2 separate regions of the Homo sapiens genome follow, and region 1 is linked to region 2. Evidence: fine-mapped expression QTL. A gene starts in region 2. The other region holds a variant in brackets. All regions are shown on one strand. Distances are between the middles of the regions.

What was found. PIP is the estimated chance that this variant, and not a neighbour inherited with it, causes the effect.
Region 1: its variant is the best candidate, but not a certain one, in a credible set for the expression of ATP6V1G1 in whole blood (INTERVAL, PIP 0.70).

Annotation. Positions count from the first base shown.
Region 1 is chr9:114,563,656-114,568,047 of GRCh38, forward strand. It overlaps LOC105376229 (a long non-coding RNA gene), which reads right to left and starts at 2,788. Exons shown (of 3, transcript XR_930260.2): 1 at 2,712-2,788; 2 at 713-835. It overlaps LOC124902352 (small nucleolar RNA U13), which reads right to left and starts at 1,697; the gene lies at 1,595-1,697. The variant A/G (reference allele first, on the strand shown) is at 2,221.
Region 2 is chr9:114,585,293-114,589,608 of GRCh38, forward strand. It overlaps ATP6V1G1 (ATPase H+ transporting V1 subunit G1), which reads left to right and starts at 2,477. Exons shown (of 3, transcript NM_004888.4): 1 at 2,477-2,628. The coding sequence starts at 2,547. RefSeq lists enhancers at 936-1,755, 1,756-2,574, 2,213-2,292, 2,403-2,912.

The sequences.
Region 1 (4,392 bases), 22 kb before region 2:
CAGCATGAAGATGTCAACTGCTCATTCTGGTTTGTAGTTTAAATGTCTCTGGTTATGGCATTGGGTGGTTTGGTGAACTTTTGATGTGACCCACACATCAGGCGTGAGTCTTGACCCTTGAAATTTACATCAAGTTGTCTAACTTCAGCTTACAGGGCTTCAGGAAAGAGCAGTTCCCATTCTTAGTAATTCCATGGGAGAAAAGTGGATTGGAGGAACCTAGAAGAATTTAAGATCCAGTTCAATCCACAGGTAAATAAAAAAACTCAAACAAACAAACAAAAATACCCCACACAGGGTTACAATCTAATAACAGGTATAGTCTAGCTTTTCTTCAGAAACATAGAAACACGATTTTTCTTTCTACAGTCATTCTGATTTCTACCAAAGATAATCCGAGTAAGACTAATTTGTTGTTATTTGTGTTTTATCAAATTTGGCCTGATAAATTCACACAAGCACAGCAGAAATAGTAATTGACCACATAGGAATCTCAGATTTGACTTTTAAAAATTTCTCAAGGCTAGAAAGCTAATCTACGGCAGACTTCAGACTTTTTCTGCTATACCTATAAATAACTTAAAATATGACATTCCATTTAAAAGCCTGGTAACGTAACCAATGTTTCCAACTATACCTTGTTATTTAAAAAGCAGCTTCTAATTAAACTTATGCAGACAACTTCATTGCCATAAAAATTAAGCATACTCACAAATAGTTTCCAAATTTTGGAGGGACAGAGAAAAAGTAAGTGTTGCCAGTTTTGTTCACAAAAGTATACTTTACCAAATTGTTGTAAACTATAGATATCTTGAGAGAGAAAGTCTCCTTAAATCTGGAAAACAAAACATGTAAGTAAAAAACCAACAATGTTTCAAATATCTGTCTTCATTAGATATTTAATCTCATGTAATTAATTTTTGTTCTGTTTAATCTTAGTTGTCAGTTTCATGAATTTATCAGTTTCTTCATGGGGGTCCTGAATATCTTTATTTAGTCCATTGATCTTAAACTTATCAGAAACCCATATTCAGGAGTACTTGCCAGAGTCTTTTCCATGAATCTGATTGCAGATGCATTTAAAGAAGAATTAAAACTGTGGAAGACAGAGGCTTAAAACAGCCATGGTTAAAAATCTGATGAGAGTTCAGCAATTGACAAGGAAACTCAGTTATGTTTATTGCATACAGCATTTTAAGACAACAACCAGAAAAATGACTAACAGTATCACATTAGGACCATCAAACATTTATAAATTTTACATAATTTTTAGATCTTTCACATCAATAACATAGCCATATAAATATAACTTAGAGAAGACTTAGTGTCACTTTGTTATTTGATCCCATCTGTGCCTCCAACGCTTCTCATACAACTCAATACATCAAACAAGCCTAATTAGTTTAACAGCTCTACAAGCTGAAAAATACATTGTTTGAGGCTCTCCAGGAGCCCAACTAGAAAATCTCAAAGATAATTCTAGGTTGAAAAGACTTCATTTAGAACTCTGATATTGAGAAAGCTGGCCAAATATGTCAAAAAGTATAAAACATTTAATTAAAACAGAATTGCAGATCATAGTGAAATAATAGTTGTTCACTTAACAAGAGTGACTGAAGATTTCAAGGTCTGAGGGTGGCACATCTCACACACGAGTGTGAACACTCAGTCATCATCCTTATGAACTACAAAAGGATCGTGACTGAAGATTTTAAAAGTAAGCTGAGCATGATGGTGTGCACCTGTAGTCCCAGCAACTTGGAAGAATGAGGTGGGAGGATCCCTTAAGTGTAGAAGTCTCAGGCCAGACTGGACAACATAGTGAGACCCTATCTTAAAGAATAAAAATTCCAAAGGCAAATGCAGAAAGTTGCATGTATGTTTTATTAAAAAAAAAAAAAGGCTAAAGACTCAGTTTTCCTAAGTAATCAAAAACCTGGCCGGGTGCAGCAGCTCACGCCTGTAATCCCAGCACTTTGGGAGGCTGAGGTGGGTGGATCACGAGGTCAAGAGATCAAGACCATCCTGGCCGACATGGTGAAACCCCGTCTCTACTAAAAATACAAAAATTAGCCGGGTGTGGTGGCACACACCTGTAGTCCCAGCTACTCGGGAGGCTGATGCAGGAGAATCGTCTGAACCCGGTAGGTGGAGGTTGCAGTGAGCCAAGATCACGCCACCGCACCCCAGCCTGGCAACAGAGCTAGACTCTGTCTCAAA[A/G]ACAACAACAACGACAACAACAAAAAACCAATAAAGACAGCATGAAGCACAGGAAATTACCTTGATAAAACACAGAATCTTTGTTTCCTAGACCAATTACCAAAAAATAAATACTCCTGCAGTGTAATTGCTTCTTATAGGAAGTCCTTTTAGATAATCTGAAAATCTAACCTAATGAAAAGGTACTTGAATTCAAATTGACACTGGATGAGTGTGTGTCCAAGGTTATGAGTATACACTATATTATAGAAGAAGTAAACAAAAAAAATAAGTACCTTGAGCAGGGAAACATATGGCTCTTAGAAAAAGTGAAAGCACATTAAGTTTCCTTGTTACATGGAATAATTCAGACATTTCAAGAAAAGCCAACAGCACAGAATCAAGTTATTCTTGGAGGAAAACATTGCTTTTCTAGACCTTTAAGACAAACATATCAGCATTAGGCCTCAACAGCAGAGTTAGAACCAGAGAAAATAAATGCAGAAGCTTACCAAAATGTCAAGGGAGTGAGTCATTAAGTTGATTAAGAAAAAAAAAAAGTGTGGCCGGGTACGGTGGTTCATGCCTGTAATTCCAGCACTTTGGGAGGCCGAGGCAGGTGGATCACGAGGTCAGGAGTTCGAGACCAGCCTGGCCAACACAGTGAAACCCCGTCTCTGTTAAAAATACAAAAATTAGCCGGGTGTGGTGTCATGCACCTGTAGTCCCAGCTACTCGGGAGGCTGAGGCAGGAGAATCGCTTGAACCCAGGAGGCGGAGGTTGCAGTGAGCCAAGACCATGCCATTACACTTCAGCCTGGGTGACGGAGTGAGAATCCGTCTCAAAAAAAAAAAAAAAAAGTGTGCCTTCTTAAGGGGAGAAGGAGGAAGAGCAGAAGGCAATGGTGTATGACCTGCAAATCATGTGCAATGAGGTGCAGCAGAAGTTGAGCTTCTGAGACATAAATCTGAAAATCTTCAAGAGAAAGACTCTATTTTGAGAAAGTAACTTACTAATTTAAAAGATAGCATTCTAAACCTAGAATTAGGGAAATTAAACAGAAACCATAAAACAGGAAGAGGTTATAGTTCAGAAGATGGTAAAAAATTTAAAGAATCAGATTTCAGGGTTTTTGTTTGTTTGTTTTTTTAGAGATAGGGTCTTATTATGTTGCCCAGGCTGGAGTACAGTGGTACCATCATAGCTCACTGCAGACTCAAACTCCTGAGCTCAACTGATCCTCCCACCTCAGCCTCCTGAGAAGGTTGGGGGGTGGGGGAGGAACTAAAAGTGTGCACCATCATACCTGGCTAATTTTTAATTTTTTTTGGTAGAGATTGGGGTCTCATGATATTGTCTAAGCTGGTCTCAAACTCATGGCCTCAAGCAATCCTCCTGCCTCGGCCTCCCAAAGCACCAGGATTACAGGTGTGAGTCACCACATCCAGCCAGATTTCAGAATTAAAAACCAAAACCTGTGGTAATTTTTTTTTTAACTAAGAGCAATGATACTCCAGGAAACCCTTGCTGCTTTAAACATAGAGAACTAGTTTTGGGTTTTGTATCAGTATATTCAATTTTCAGAAAAATTTATAAACAATTTCCTTCTAAATTTAGCCAACTTGATTACATACAAAATTTATTTCATAAGATTCATGTTTCACAAACCTTTTGCAAGTTGCTCAAACCTCTTATGGCTTGCTTAGGCCTAATTTTGTTTTAGACTTTCTTTTTTAATATTGGAACAAATAATTATTCTACCTTAGGACAAAAATTTGCTTTTCTTTTTCTTTATCATTTTTACCACACAAGATTCTTTCTCATACAAAGTTATGTATCTTTTTCATCTTTCTTACCAAAGATACCTTCTCATATTTATAATTTTCTTTGCATGTCTCTTCCTACTTATTGATTTCTTTGCCTTGTTTTTATTTTCTTCTTAAATCTATATTTTGAAACCACCTTTAAATAATGTCTGAATTAGATATAATTATTATTTTTAAATTAAAAACATATATTCATGTTCTTTTTTAAAACAATTTTTTACTGGCTAGGTGCAGTGGCTCACATCTATAATCCCAACACTTTGGGAGGCTGAGGCAGGAGAACTGCTTGAGCTCAGGAGTTTGAGACTAGCCTGAGTAACATAGCAAGACTCCATCACTACAAAAAAAAAATTTAAACAATATTAA
Region 2 (4,316 bases):
GCACTTTGGAAGGCCGAAGCTGGTGGATCACGAGGTCAGGAGTTTAAGACCAGCTTGGCCAAGATGGGGAAACCCCATCTCTACTAAAACTACAAAAAAAATTAGCCAGGCACAGTGGTAGGCACCTGTAATCCCAGGTACTCGAGAGGCTGAGGCAGGAGAATCGCTTGAACCCGGGAGGCGGAGGTTGCAGTGAGCCGAAATCGCGCCACTGCACTCCAGCCTGGGCTACAGAATATCTAAAGAAAAAAAAAAAAAGAAAAAAGAAAAAGAAATAAGGTACATTTGCAGAAGTATAATCACTAACTCTGTCAGATGTTATCTTATGTGTAAAAGAGGCAAGGATTAGTGTAATTTATCCTTTAAGGAATATAGTAACTCAGGCAGGAGACATGTGGGCCCATGTGCTCTATTCTGTTTTATCTTCAAAACTCTTTCCAGTCCTGTTTCTCACATCAGAAAAGGATAGAAATTCTGTTCTTTCCAACCCCACCACGTCAATCAAATGAAAATGTCCTGAGCCATGAATCCAGCTCCTGGAGTGAAGAATCTTTGTATCAAGAAAAATTCTGGCATTATTTTATGTTCTCAGCACTCAGTGGACTCTAAGAGGTCACCTGGTCCTTTCCTCAGCCCAGAGGATTCCGGCAGAAAAGCAGTAGCTCAGAGGTTTTACTCTGCAGCCCTGACTGGATTCAAATACCCTGTCTGTGTGTTAATAGGGGCATGACTTTTGGCTCAGAGACTTTGCGACTCTCTGAGCTTCAGTTTGGTCAATATAAAATGGAATTAGTAACAGTATCAAAGTTAATGTGAGGAGTGAGTGAAGCGATGACAAGGGCCCGTCATACTGTAAACTCAAACCATGGCTTCCTATTTCCCTATTCACGGTGGATGGGGAGATGTCTCCGTGCCAAGTTGACCCCCTCCCCAACTCCGCACACGCTGGTCCTTTTCCCCTAATCATCTCCCACCGCCTCCATCCCCCACTATCCTTTCCTGGGTAACTTCTTATTCTTCAGATCTTATTTTATTTTTTGAGAATTTTTATTATTTATTTACTTATTTATTTTTGAGATGGAGTCTGCTCTGTCACCCAGGCTGGAGTGTAGTGACACGATCTCGGCTCACTGCAACCTCAGCTCCCAGGTTCAGGCGATTCTCCTACCTCAGCCTCCTGAGTAGCTGGGATTACAGGCGCGCGCCACCATGCCCGGATTTTTGTATTTTTAGTAGAGACCAGGTTTCACCACATTGGTCAGGCTGGTCTCAAATTCCTGATCTCGTGATCCGCCGGCCTCAGCCTCCCAAAGTGCTGGGATTATAGGCGTGAGCCACCGCGATTGGCCTATTTTAATTTTTTAATTTTAATTTTTTTGAGACAGTCTTGCTCTGTCGCCCTGGCTGCAGTGCAGCGTCACGATCTCGGCTCACTGCAGCCTCCGCCTCCCGGGTTCAAGCGATTCTCGTGCCTCAGCCTACTGAGTAGCTGCGATTACAGGCGCGCGCCACCACGCCCGGCTAATTTTTGTATTTTTAGTAAAGACGGGGTTTCACCACGTCGGCCAGGCTGGTCTCGAACTCCTCACCTGAAGTGATCCACCCGCCTCGGCCTCTCAAAGTGCTGGGATTACAGGCTCGTGAGCCACTGCGCCTGGCCTTCAGATCTTAAACACCACTTCCTTGGTACAGCATTCAGAGACACCTCCATATTCCTCTCCCCTTACTAAAGGTTCCTTCTTACGGCACCCTGCATTTTTCCTTCATGACTTTATCACAGTTTGTAATTGTCTATTTATTTTAATTAATCTGTCTGTGTCCATAAACTGTGAGCTCCGCCGGGACCTTGTTTGCCCTGCTCTCTGCTATGTCCTCAATATCAACAGTGGACTAGGATCACAGCAGGCTTTCATCAAATATTTATGGGAAACAGTCCAGTCCATTCCTGAACTCGGGTTCAGAAAAGGATAGCGACCTGTCCAAAATCACACAGGTTAGCGGCAGACTTGATCCCGAGTCTCCTAACTGGCAACCCAAGACTCTATCCCCGGAACTGGCAAGAATCTTCCTGAACTACCCCGATAAAATTTTGAGTGCCAAAGAAAGTCCCAGAAAGGGAGTGAGTAGAGCAGTGTGGAGAGTAGGAGGAAAGTGATTTGACTTGGCCCCTCCTCTCTTGACGTTGAGCATACTGCAAACAGACACTATACGTGGCAGGGCGGCTACAGAGTGAACCAGCGACAGGGTAGCCATTAAAAGAGGCCAGGGAGCGGACAGAGGAGTAGAGGGCAGTACTGCGCAGTAGACTGCACAGGCGCAGTCGAGGAGCTCCGCTCCTTTCTCCTCAGCCCCGCCCCGCCCCATTTCTGCCGAATCACAGAAGTTCAAGAGCGGTCAGCTGATGCTACGCTGTGCGGTCACGTGACAACGGGGGCGAAGCGCAGGCGCAAGGAGCAAGCGCAGATTGTGGGCGGCTGTGTCAGCTGACCCAAGGGGCCTTCGAGGTGCCTTAGGCCGCTTGCCTTGCTCTCAGAATCGCTGCCGCCATGGCTAGTCAGTCTCAGGGGATTCAGCAGCTGCTGCAGGCCGAGAAGCGGGCAGCCGAGAAGGTGTCCGAGGCCCGCAAAAGTGAGTTTCAGGGTGGGGCTGCCCGGCGTGGCGCGAGTCGAAGAAAGACCGCTGGGCCTCAGGTGGTGGGTAGATTAGGCCCGAAAAACTGCGGGGTGCGGGCGTGCGTATAGTCGCGGAAGGTTGTGTGTTTCGAAGCTTTGAGGAGCTGAGGCTCTGGAAGGCTTGCGGATCGCCTGGAAGCCACGATGTGAGATGGTAAATTGGGCGTGGAAACAATAATGGGTTACCGTCCTTGGGGCCTGGAGGCATGTGAAATGGGCTCTCCAAACGGAGCTCTTTGTTCTTCTTCTCTCCCACTTAACCGCTCTGGGGTGGTCAGTCTCGGTGAAGGGAGCCAGCATCCACACAGTTGCTTGGTCTAGAAACCTGGAGTCCTGCTTGCCTCTTCTCCCTCCCTCATTTAGTCAGTCGCCAAGGCTTGCGTATCTTTCACTTTTTCCCCCATGTCTACTACCAGCGTCTTAGTCCAGGACACCAGTTTCTCTAAAGGTACTGTAGTTGTCTAAATCGTTGGCGTGTGTGCGTGTGTGTGTTTCTGATATGTGGCAAGCGCAGTGTGTGTGTGTTTCTAACATGTGGCAAGCGCAGTGTGTGTGTGTGTGTGTGTGTGTGTGTGTTTCTGTCTAATATGTGGCAAGCGCAGTGCCCAGTGCATCAGTTGTCTCCCCTAACGTGGCATTCAGTGTCGCAGTGAAGGAAGCAGGTATTGGGTCAGTTAATTAATTGCAGGAGAGATGAGGGCTGGAGTGGAGAAATGTAAGGTTGCTAAAGAATTTAACAGGTGAGTTTAATCTAGACTGGGGAGTGGAAGAACCCGTTCTGGTCCCCTCCAGTCAATCCATTCTCCTCTCTGCAATCAGTCATCCTTCTAAAATGCAAATATGTGACTTCCTGCTGGTAAGGAACAAAATAAATAAATAAGTGCAGATATGATTTCCCTACCGCCTTTGTAGTCAGACGTTTAGTTCCTGCAGAAGAAAGCTCAAATTCCTTAATGAAGTTGGGGAGGCTCTTGTGGGTCAGGCCTGGTGCTTTCCTCCAGCTATACTGAATCGTTGTGGTCCCTCAGAAGCAGCATGATGTCTTTCACCTGCAGGTTTTTGCACACGCTGTTTCTTCTGACGTGAGAAGCCTTTTCCAATTCTCCTCCCCTTTGTTCTCTGACCCTTAGTCTTCCATCAGACCTCAATTTAGGAAACACTTCTTCCCGGGAAGCCTTTCCTGACTCATGCTTGTCCCCCGGACTAGGCTTGGAGTCCCTCCCAAGTGCTGATTTCTGCCACTGCCGTGCAATAACCTGTTTGTTTATATGGCTCAGTCACTAGACTAAGCTTCTGGAGAACAGAAACTATGTCTCATTTAACTTTATGTATCCAGTTTCCCGTCTGGTGAGAAAGATGCTTCTATCCCTATTTTACAGATAGTAAAAATGAGGCTCAGAGAGAAATGATTTATCCATACCCTGGGAAGCAACATAGTTGGGACTCAGAAGCCTCTTTTTCCATGCAAGGCGAAGATACTGATCTTAGTAATTCCTTGGTGTTTCTCCTAGTATAGGAGTTATTCTATCTGACATCCAACTAGATTTCAAGCATGTCTCCTCTACTTGTGCAGTTAGGGGTTGTGTGGTACTTGGAAAGCTTTCTTTGAGGGTGTTGGGAATGAGAAGAAGCCTTTTGTTCTTG